Linked DNA regions of Homo sapiens. The protein of the gene in region 2 purifies or fractionates together with the protein of the main gene of each other region. This does not show direct contact. Each region holds a gene or a part of one and is shown on either strand. Other genes may lie near its edges. The genes, in order: MYO1B, ZIC3 and MYH10.

Evidence for each region.
Region 1: the proteins of ZIC3 (region 2) and MYO1B purify together in Homo sapiens (affinity purification with mass spectrometry; one large-scale study listed by BioGRID and IntAct). This does not show direct contact.
Region 3: the proteins of ZIC3 (region 2) and MYH10 purify together in Homo sapiens (affinity purification with mass spectrometry; one large-scale study listed by BioGRID and IntAct). This does not show direct contact.

What each region holds. Positions count from the first base shown.
Region 1 is NC_000002.12:191,409,388-191,413,041, forward strand, and holds part of MYO1B (unconventional myosin-Ib), read left to right. Parts: intron 1-1,678; coding exon 1,679-1,785; intron 1,786-3,654. UniProt on the Homo sapiens protein: Motor protein that may participate in process critical to neuronal development and function such as cell migration, neurite outgrowth and vesicular transport.
Region 2 is NC_000023.11:137,569,072-137,572,701, forward strand, and holds the end of ZIC3 (zinc finger protein ZIC 3), read left to right. Parts: intron 1-819; coding exon 820-999; 3' UTR 1,000-3,031; downstream 3,032-3,630. UniProt on the Homo sapiens protein: Acts as a transcriptional activator. Required in the earliest stages in both axial midline development and left-right (LR) asymmetry specification. Binds to the minimal GLI-consensus sequence 5'-GGGTGGTC-3'.
Region 3 is NC_000017.11:8,620,638-8,624,291, forward strand, and holds part of MYH10 (myosin-10), read right to left. Parts: intron 2,641-3,654; 5' UTR 2,610-2,640; coding exon 2,265-2,609; intron 1-2,264. UniProt on the Homo sapiens protein: Cellular myosin that appears to play a role in cytokinesis, cell shape, and specialized functions such as secretion and capping. Involved with LARP6 in the stabilization of type I collagen mRNAs for CO1A1 and CO1A2.

The DNA.
Region 1 (3,654 bases), on a different chromosome or scaffold from region 2:
CCCTGGCTGGAACGGGGAGCACAGGGCTGCATTTTCTTTCCATTCCAGGTTCCAGCTGCTCTCAAGTAGTTCAGTTTTTTGTTCATTTGTTTCTCTCTTTGTCTAAAGGAATACTGTAGGACAGAGAAATCATAAAATTTGGACACCTTCAGGCAACATAGTTAAATCCTGCAAATTGAAGAGTTTACTTTATCAGATGTACAGAACAGATAATCAGATAATACATGTGAACACACACACTTTGATGGGTGGGAAAAAAGGCTTTTTCCTGTCCCTAAAGATAGTAACACATTCTCTATCTAAATTACAGGGAAGCTGGAAATCTGTTTTATACTGCCTTTTATTTTAGCTCTCTTATTTTGTATAAGAGGACATGGCATGTAATTTAGATGTTGCCCAGCATGGAACACGTGGGGCACTTGTATAGATGTTGACCTTACTTCGATAACCTAGTCAGTTGATATGTGGAATGTTAAATATATGCAGTTATCAGATGTAATAAAATCATGAGATGGAAGGGCATGTATTTAGTAAATGAATGCTCAGTACACACATCCTCCAGGAAACTTTCCTGCCCAGCACGGTGGGCTTGTTTTTTTGTTAGAATCATCTATGTATAGAGTGACATTATTGCTGATTAGCTTGATAAGTGGTACCATACAACATAAGGAACTAGATTCTGAGTTCTGTTCTCTAACAGCAAATTTGGCGAGGTTCATGAACCTCTTAATGGCTTGTCTCCTTTCTTGAGTCTAACCCAGAAACTGTTTTCAGAAATAATGACAGGGAGCTCCCATTGCTGGGGATCTGCACCACCTCTGCCCTCCCCTGGCTTTGCAATCTCACCCATCCCTCCATTGGATTGGAGGTGGGAGATGAGGGCTGTTTATTCCTGAAGGGAGCCTTTCCATGGAAAGGGTCAGCAGCAATGCTCACACTTCTTCATGCAATTATTTCAGTAGCACTTGACCACACCTGTAACTGAATTTCTAGGAATGCTCATCTAAAAAACCTGGCCCTGCTCCTCTGGCCACTGTCTCCTCTCATTGCAGCTTCAGGGATGGAGTGAAAGGGGATATCTCAGGTCCCTCATCCCTATTGTAAAATGGTAGTGGGGGGATTTGGAGCAGTGGTTTTCAAACTGTCATAGCATATTTGTGGTCATGAAATCAATTTAGTGGATTACTACCAGCGTTTTTCAATAAAATGCAATAGAATAGAAAATAGCAGAGTGTACAATATATAGAAAGGATTGAGTATTGTTTTGTGACGCTTTTGTGTCAGTTTTCTCTGTATGTGTGTGGAAATGTGCTTAGTGGATTGTGATGCACAATATTTTTACTGTGAGTCTCTCTAGAAGAGTGACAGCCTCAGGACTAGAGGATTTCCAAGGATTGACATAGTGGGAGGAAATAGTACTTGCAAGGCCCGTGCCCACTAGGCCCTGGTGTGTTTTGAAGAAGCATTCCAGGTTCTGCAATACAAATAATACTCTGACGTTTTCCAAGACAAACTTTTTAAAACCCACAAGGGAAAAATGTTTTTGGCCTTTTTTAGTGAATGTTTTGTACTTTCTCCCTTATTCTTGTTGCTGATAAATTGTCTTAGCATATTTAAGAATGAGTAATAATTTATTTATATAAATGATGTTTTGTTTCTTTCTTCTCATATCTCACAGTGTAAAAAATACAGGGACCAATTCACAGACCAGCAGAAACTTATTTATGAAGAGAAACTAGAAGCCAGTGAACTCTTCAAAGACAAGAAGGCTTTATACCCATCTAGGTATTATGGCTTTGCTTTACCCATAAAATTCAGGATTATAAAAGTTTCTCAAGTATATTTGTACGCCGTTTTGCCTGGTGTTTGATTTCAGTCTTAGATGAGTGATTTTTAGTTCTGTGAATCATTTTATAATCAGCTTGATGTAAACACATTTATTTGAGCTATGGCTTCTATAGTGCAGTTTAATGAAATGAGGTTACGATTGTTGGTTTCACTCCATTAGCATTAGCTCAAACACTTTACTAAATAATTAGAAGTCATTTAACATAAAAATTATATAGGCTGTTAAGATACGTTTGCATTGTAAATTCCTGTTCCTTTTCCGTAGTTTTCAAAGACTAGCCAAATTTCTGTTGGCAATATACTTTAATCACCATTCCAGTCTTCCTGCCATAGCAAGCAAGGTCAGAAACTTATTTGTAAGGTAAATGAAAGAGCGAGCCAGGACAGTACTTTTTGAGTGTTGCTTGAGCACTGGTCTGTGGTGCCCTTTGGTCTGCTAACTCAACGGATATGACTTCTGTGGCCTGTACAGCACGTTCAGTTCCTTTATTTTAGACACCGTGGACTCAGAAAAAGAAGGAACACCAATCCCAAGTTCAGCAAGTGAAGTCCTTGGTAAAGACTGTTTATCCCAATAGTCTTACATCTCCTGCATTCATCACTTCCTCCCAGCAATCTAATCCCATTTTCATCTGGTGTTTATAAAAAAGTAGATTGTACAATTTCAAGCCAAATCTGTAACAACTTTAAGCTTCTTCCAATGAATGGCCAAAGAAAGAATGTATTATATGCTGAGTATATTCACATTTATTACGTAAATTATGTTTATATTCTCTGTGACTTTATACACATTTAAAATATCTTCCTTTTAAAGGATTAAAGGAATATACATTGCCAGACTCACTGGGTTTAAATATTTTAAATTGTACAACTTCATTGGTTAGCTGATGTGGCTACTTGAGGTGATACATACTCCCTTAAGTCAAACACAGTGTCTAAATCCAAAGTTGTCCAAAGTGCCTGTTATATAAAGCATATTCAAACAGGAGAATTTGTCTGTATGCTTGCTTCAGCAACTAATTTTATTCAGCTTTTTTTTTATACATTTTTAAATTAGGGAATAACCTTCTTAATGAACATTTCCTGTGGATGACTCTTCAGAAACTACAGGCTGGAAAATACATCTTTGAGGAAACAATTTAAAAGCCTGTTAGCATTTTTATAATTTAAAACACAGTTGAATAGGAACCAAAAAAAGTTAACTTCAAGCCAAGTCCTTTTTGGGTAGTCTTATCAGTTTTCAGGGATAGTGGCACACTCACCCCACAGCAGTGAGAGAGGTGGAATAATTTAGCCTCCCACCACCCTGCAAAGTGGCAGCTCTTATGGGAGTTGGCCTTTTATATCCTGAGAGCTGTGAAACGCTGACCACCTACGTGGATTTTTCTTCCCTTATCCTCCACCCACAACATAAGCATTTAAATTTGTATTTGCAAATTGCCAGAACTTTGTAGCTCAAAATGAAGCTTATAGATTCCTTGAAGCAGCAGTTTTTCCTTGGTGCCTTTGATGAACCTGTCCTGAAAGAGTCCCCCGACAAGTCTTTAGGGAAATTGATATCTTAGTGATAAGTGTACAGTTAACCTTTTACAAAAATTAGTTTGTTTGGGAAAAAAAAAATTGCCCTGATTCTGAATGTTTGCTTTGGTTACTTCTGTCCATTTAGAGGCATATTCTAGGAGAAGAGGCTTGATTCTCCTTTCATATACAGATGCTGCTTAACTTATGATGCAGTTACACACAGATAATCCATCATATGGGTTATGAGTGATTTCTATCTTGATTGTTCCATGTGATGAGATTATT
Region 2 (3,630 bases):
ACCTCTTTATTAGCGGTCGGCGGTTTGTAAACACTCGGCCCGACGCCGGGCCGCGGAACGGAAGCGCCCGCGCTGCCAACCCTCTGTCTTCCACGTTAAATCCGATTTGCTCCAGCAGTGACACCTTGAACCCATTTTGGGGACCGGGCGGGGGTGGGGGTGAGGGGGTGGGCGGGAGTGAGCAAAGTTGGGAGGGGGAGGAAGCGGAGGGAACAATCGGTTGTTTACTGGGAAGCTCTAGCCGAGCTCGCCTGGGCTTGCGGGGCTGCCGTGGCCGCCTCTTCCCGACTCAGCCCGCGGTGGGAACCGAGAGTAGCCGCGCCGAACCCGAGGGTGGGTGGTTCATTCGCTCTTTGGCTTCGGATAAAACAATAGGGCCGAGGAGTGCAATCTGATTCCCACACATTTGTCTGCGACTTCGCAGCGCTCAGGGCCCCTGTGCCACCTTCTCTGTACCTGCTTTCTCAAGCCGAAACGGGCTTGGTGAAACCTGGGCCCGGAGTTAGTATTTTATAGGACCTCACAGTGTACTGCTTACCTCACTCCATCCGCGGAGAAAGCATTTTTGAAGTGGCATGACCAAAACGGAATGCTTTATTCCTTTTCCGTAACACCAGTCTTAGGAGCAAAACTGGTTTTTGGCGAACATCTCCGGGTTTTCTAGACATCGGTAATACGGATTTTTTTTAAGCAGCATTTTTCTTTTAAGTGGGTCACTGGGCGGTCTTGTTGTTACAGTGCTCGAATTCTGCTCTTGTTTTTGCTTGCACATTGCCAGTTGGAATTATATTCATTATAATATATACATGTTAATTTTAGGTTCATGAATCTCAAGGGTCAGATTCCTCCCCTGCTGCCAGTTCAGGCTATGAATCTTCCACTCCACCCGCTATAGCTTCTGCAAACAGTAAAGATACCACTAAAACCCCTTCTGCAGTTCAAACTAGCACCAGCCACAACCCTGGACTTCCTCCTAATTTTAACGAATGGTACGTCTGAGGACAAACACAAACCCTGTTAATTATAGAATGGACCAAATACATTTTTAAAAGAAAACTGAGACCAATCAGATGGAAATGGAGTTTTAAGGCAAGAGGCCATATATAGGGCTACATCTTGTTAATTGCAATTGTCCAGGAAGGTTTTGGGCAAGATCCAAAAGTAGCCATGCCCTTTTCTCAGGATAGAAAATATGTTTTGGCATTTGAAGCATTTTTTACAAAATCTTTACACTACTTTTTCTTCCCCTTCCTCTTGCTCTCTGCACACCCCATTCTTAAACTCCTCCAATTCATTTTAACACTTGTCCTGTTTCTTGAGAGGAAGTTATAGAAGGCTTGTTGGTGGTGGTGATGTTAAACTGATGGAAATTCTTTTTCGCCTTAGTGGTGATTGTTTAAACTCTCACAGTCTTAAACCGTGCCAAAGTCCTGTTATGTCTTGAACTTTTCCTCAAAGCATTACACTTGTGAATGTATTTTTGTCTAATAGGGTCGAAACTGTTGTTCAGTATTTTTTCAGGCTGAGGATGTGATGTTACTCTACACATTGTGACGTTTAGTATACAGTTGCCTTTTGTAATAACTTTTTTTTTGTAAATACATATCCATTGATGCCATATTTATCGTTTGTAATTTAATTATTGCTACAAGTGCCGGGAACTGAACAATATTTATGGATAAATGTTTTCTAACAAATTCTGTACAGCTTTTGATTATAACTGCTTTAGCATTAAAAATTGTTTTGAAAGAAGAACACAATTTACAATTTTGGAACCACTGACTCCTTTCTCTTGTTTTGTAACAGCCTTCTTCTACAAAGAGGAGATGTGAGCAAATTAAATCTTGTTTGTTGGTATTTATAACTCACTCAGATCCCTTTTTTAATTGTTAAATTATTTTTCTATTACAGTATAAATTCCTTACAGTGTCAGTTTCCATCTGGGAAGACTCTCCTTTCTTTATCTCTATCTCAGATGGTTGTTTAACTGCGAGTTTAAATGTGTTTGTCCTGGATTTTCGGCATGCAAATCAAATATTACTGATCAATTCAGTTAGTGGCCATGACATCTCAATCTTGTACTTCAAAGACTGAGAAGCTGGATTTAATCATCCCTGCCCTACATATATAAACATAAGGTAACCTACTGAATTTTATGTCCCTTAGTTCTTTATTACCTTACATAAAAATGAAAATTGCGGCAGGATGCATGTCTGTCTGTTCTATCTAGAGATCACCCATATACCTATATATGTTTGTATCTATGACTTATCTAATCTGCCTATCAATCTATCTAGTAGCTATCTATATATTTTCAAAAGATAGCTTATGTCTAAAACAGTGGTGATGAGTAAGGCCAGTTGAGCATTGCTTACTTATGGTTAAAGTGCTTCTTAAAAGAACCATAGTCCATTTACAATTTTGGAAGGCAAAGGCTGATTTGTTTGCTGTATATAGTTCAATTCATAATTATCGCAATTATCCATAACATTTATATAGCGGTGTAATAACTGCAGCAGTTCTGAAATGATGCTATGGGAAAAAAATTGCAAAATATGTATTTTTAAAGTTCATGATTTGTAGGCAAAGATGTTAAGAGCATTGTTTCCATTAAAATCAATAACAATGAAAAACGGTTGTTTGCTTTGTGATAAAATGTTAACAATCCATTTAATCTTCAGTGAAGCAACTCATTTGGACAAACAGTTCTTTTACAGTGGTTATATGGAAAAGAAATTGATTGCTATTTTGGGGGGCTGGAGTGGGTAGAGTATTGAGACCTTTTTTATTAGGGTGCTGTTTGTTATTGAGAGCCCAATCTCTGCATGAATAACAGAAAGGTGGACATAAGGAATTGTAAAGTATTTAGAATGTATTGAATAGGCTTAAGTACCTCCTTTAAGGGGCAATGCTCTAGGTTTTTGGTGGCAGTCAATTTGGTATTATATATGATCATTTTCAATTCTAGAATTTTGTTTATTGTTCTTTTTGAAGAAATAAAGTCTTGGCACATCTTATTTATGTTATAACATTTTTGTATTTGGTGCCTGATTTTTTTTCATGTTCAAATAAATCAATCTAAAATTGAAATGCTTACAGAACTTCTGATGATTAAAAGAAACTTTGATTCTGTGAATGCGGTTGAAGCAGTCTATTTAAGTTATCTACTGATCTTTGTCAACAGACAATTAGTTATTGACAGTTTCTAATTGCAAATTGCTTTGGAGGCTATTTTTTGTTAGTGGAGAATAATGGGGTCTTTTGCATTTTCTTCCACCAATATCCAAGCCTGAATGCCATGAACAGAGATTGGGATGACTACACATGTGATGAGCAGGTAACCTGGTCAGTCTATCACTCCCAACCCAGACATTCCGATCTTGACCTTGACATTGAGGGTGCTGGACCAGATTCCTATTTCAGGCTTTTTCCTTCACCTCAAACCAGAGACCATTTTAAATGCTCAGCAAGTTCTCAGAAAGTATATATTCATAAGACTGGCTCTAAGTGTGTTCCATTGTGAAATCTAAATAGTGTATTTTTCTTCTGAACTGTACAATGAACTTCCATAATTTACCACTTTCTCCATGAGTTCCCTCCCCCACCCTCAATCTAACCTAACTTTACGTG
Region 3 (3,654 bases), on a different chromosome or scaffold from region 2:
ACCTCAACTGATCATCCCAACTGGCTGGTTAATTCCAAAGCCCAATACATATTTATCACAATGCTAGCATGGCTCTCCCCATCCCCATCCTCTTAACGACACAGACTTCTTTGGAGTCAAGTTCTCCAACTAGAACCTTAGGTAAGAACCCTTTCTCCACCCAACTAATTGAAGATATGATCCTCCCAAACCCCGACCTCTGTGTGACCTTGAGACTTTGAGAAAAACTCAGATTCTCCTGTAGAAGGAGGCTGTGCTTTGAAAAGAAACTCAGAAGTTCACTCAGGTTGTCCATGAGTTAAGTTGGAAAAAAATCCAACAAACTCAGTAAGAGATAACTGTAAAATCTCTGAATTATGTGGAATGGCTGCAAAACAAAAACAAAAACAACAAAAAAACACCTGTCCTTTCTTTCATTCCTTTTCTACTTAGCACCCTTTGCAGCTACCTCCAGCTGCCAGTGTGGGAAATTAAGGTGAAGGCTGGCAGAAAAGCAGCCTGGCTCCTCTTCACACTGCACAGTTTTTGATGGTGACATCACATTTCCATACCTGCACAATTTATTGCAATGGGCTTCATCTGAAACTGATCAACCTCTCAAATCTTACATGTCGACATTACAATCTGACCATAACCTCTTAATTTTGCAGTTTTCTCACTCCTTCACCCCATGATCCCTGTTCCTCAACATTCTGAAAACTTCCAGGCCTTGATCCATCAGCCCCTCCCACCCAGACTCCCATTCCTACCGAACGAGGACTCCAAAGACGGCCACTGAATCCCCCTCTCACTGTGGAAGCCATGCAGATCCAAAGCCCCCCACACTCACAGACCTGAGACAATCCCATGGTCTGGCAAAATCACATAGCCAGGCAAAATTGCGGTCACCCTACACGTGGTTATTCAATCTCAGCTGGACTCTCAACGCCACTCTCCAGTCGCTTTCTTATCCCTGGCTTAGTCTGAAATTGGAAAAGGGTTGTTCCTAAGCCTTTCCATTCTCCTCAAGCCACCGTTCCAACCCTGTGGCCTCTTACTCTCCTACCTCATAGAGAAGAAAATAAGGGAGATCTATCAGGCTTGGTTGAAACTACTCTGGCAAAGGTCATGAATGAATCATTCTTTTCTCAGCTTTTCTCGTGGCTAGCTGCCTCCCACCAGTCAGACTCCAGCTCAAATGCTACCTTCACAAACAGCCCTTAACTGACCCGCTGGAGAAAGCCATTCTCCTACTTACTCTCTCCATAGCCTTGTTTCATTTCCTCATTGGACATTTCAGAAAGGCAGAGAGACCTGGCCTGTCTTCTTCACTGTACTATCCCCAGCACCTAGAGCACAGGGGGTGCTTAATAAATATTCCTTAAACTAATTCTGTAGGAAAACTAGCTCTGATTTACTGAAGTTTTGAATTATTCATGACCTTCAGTAGCACACTCCTTGTGTAAAATTCAACACCCCTTTTCCGATTTCAAACCACGACCATCAACTTTTCTTCCTACTTCCCTTCATCGTCAGTTTAAGTCCCACACGTGCCACCTTCTTCAAATCATTGCCACCTCTGTCTACCATTCCCTCAAACCTATTTTGTCATTTTAGATTTTTCTTTTAGTATCTGGCTTACATTTTTCCTCTCTACATTATCCCTCTCTACATTATCCCTTATGATTTTCAATAACTTCTTCTACATGGTCAGTGACAAAGTCGGTGACTCCAACATTCATGTCAGCTGCTAACCACAGGACGACCCCAGCCAGCCTCAATCTTACCCTAATTGTTTCCTCTTAAAAACCTCAGCATTCATCTTTCCTACTTCCCTACTACATCCAGTGAAGCTGTTCATGCTGTCCACAGAAATTTCTCAGCTTACAGCCCCTCCACTTTACTCTTGGGTATGCACTTGATTTTTGACCGTTTTGCTGTCTGCGTCCAATTAATGCAACTCTCTTTACCTTATTAAACCTTCTGGTCTTCCTGTTACATGCTCTCTCCCACCTTATTATGCTCCAGAAGACCACTACAAAAGTCTTCAAATGCCATTTTATTATATGTAATTGCAGCCTGTATTATTTAAACTTAATGTGTTAAGATTCAAAGAAAAGCAAGACATGGGTAAGCAAGCAACAAATCTTTCTATCTTAAAGAGAAATAGAAATGTTAAACAGAGAGTTTGGGTATTCCACATTCTCATTTGATTATGACAAGATGTATAATTTACATTAATTCCTAGCTACCACTTCACATGATTATTTGGAAGAAATACTTACATAGATTAGTCCTGAATAGTAGCGATCCTTCAGATTATGTAAAACGGAAGCTTCATTCAAGCATGTCAATTCTGCCATATCCTCCACCTTGGAAAACTTAGGTGGGTTCATCTTCTGAATATCATCTTTGTTGACCATTGCTTTCTTTCCATTCTCTGCCAACTCCACCATAACTTCATCTCCCCGTTCTTCTTTGATACTAGCTGCCTCAAAACCATGGCGTTCTGATGGAATCCACACTAGCTTTTTAGCTGTCCAATCAGCTTGAGTGGCAGGGTTGTAGATGACAGCCCTGTCCACAAAGAGATACCTCTCTGGATCCTCGAGTCCAGTTCTCTGCGCCATTGTAAATGGAACGATCCAAAAGCAATTGCCTCTAAGAGAAGAGGAGGAGGGCAAAATTAGATGTTTAAGAAACAAAAGAATGTACACGTTTTTCTTTTCTAAGAAACTTAAAACCTTAGATTAAGCATTAACTCTGTGTTAAGGAGCTGGGGTATACCTCTTCACAGCCATACTAACCGAGTTTCCAAGGTAAATTTCAGCGGTGACCACAAATTATGGCTCTGGTTGTCTGATGGGTTTGCCCTCAGTTACTGAGGGCAAAAAAAAGAAAAGAAAAGAAAAGAAAAGGCAAAGTTACAAGTTGACCCTTTTTTTTCTTTATCTCCTCTTTCACCCTCACCACAAATTAAACAGGGAGTTAAGAAGGGAAAAAAAAAAAGAAAACAAAGATGGGTAATAAAAGGTTCATGAAGTGGTACCAGAATTAATATGACCACAAGGAAACAGCTACAAAAACACATGATTGTCAGAAGAGTAAAGAATCTAAAGAATCTAAAACATGCCTCTCATTCTACCCTCAGATAACAGACTTAAAGTTCTTCTTATGAATAACCCAAATCAGTCTCCCTCTAGCTTTTCTATGGCCCCATGAGGTCTTAATGTGATCAACTGGGACCACAAAAGACAAGCATAACTTGGCTTCACACGGCAGCCTTTTGAATATGTCATGGTAGCAGTTCAGGCCTCTATTCCCATCCTGCAGCTCCTCCACCCCTCATTCACCAAGACTCCTTCCCCTGCCGGATCTCTCGCCTAAACAGACTCCAACATGCTGCTTGTCTTCCCTCTAAAGTGTGTGGCCCAGAAGCAAACATCATAGCCCAGATATGGTCTGACCAGTGCAGAAGAAAAAGGAACCATCAACTATCTTAGCCACATTGAGGAAAGTACTGGTTCTGTGACATTTACAATTAATGTATCTCAAGACCTAGTTGTTTTATTTAGCACCCATTTACCATTGGCTCACAAAGGGCTAGCAGAGGAAGCTCCATCACTTTGTGGCTAAGCTATGTCCCCTCCTCTACTTGTGCACTGGCTTTCTGGA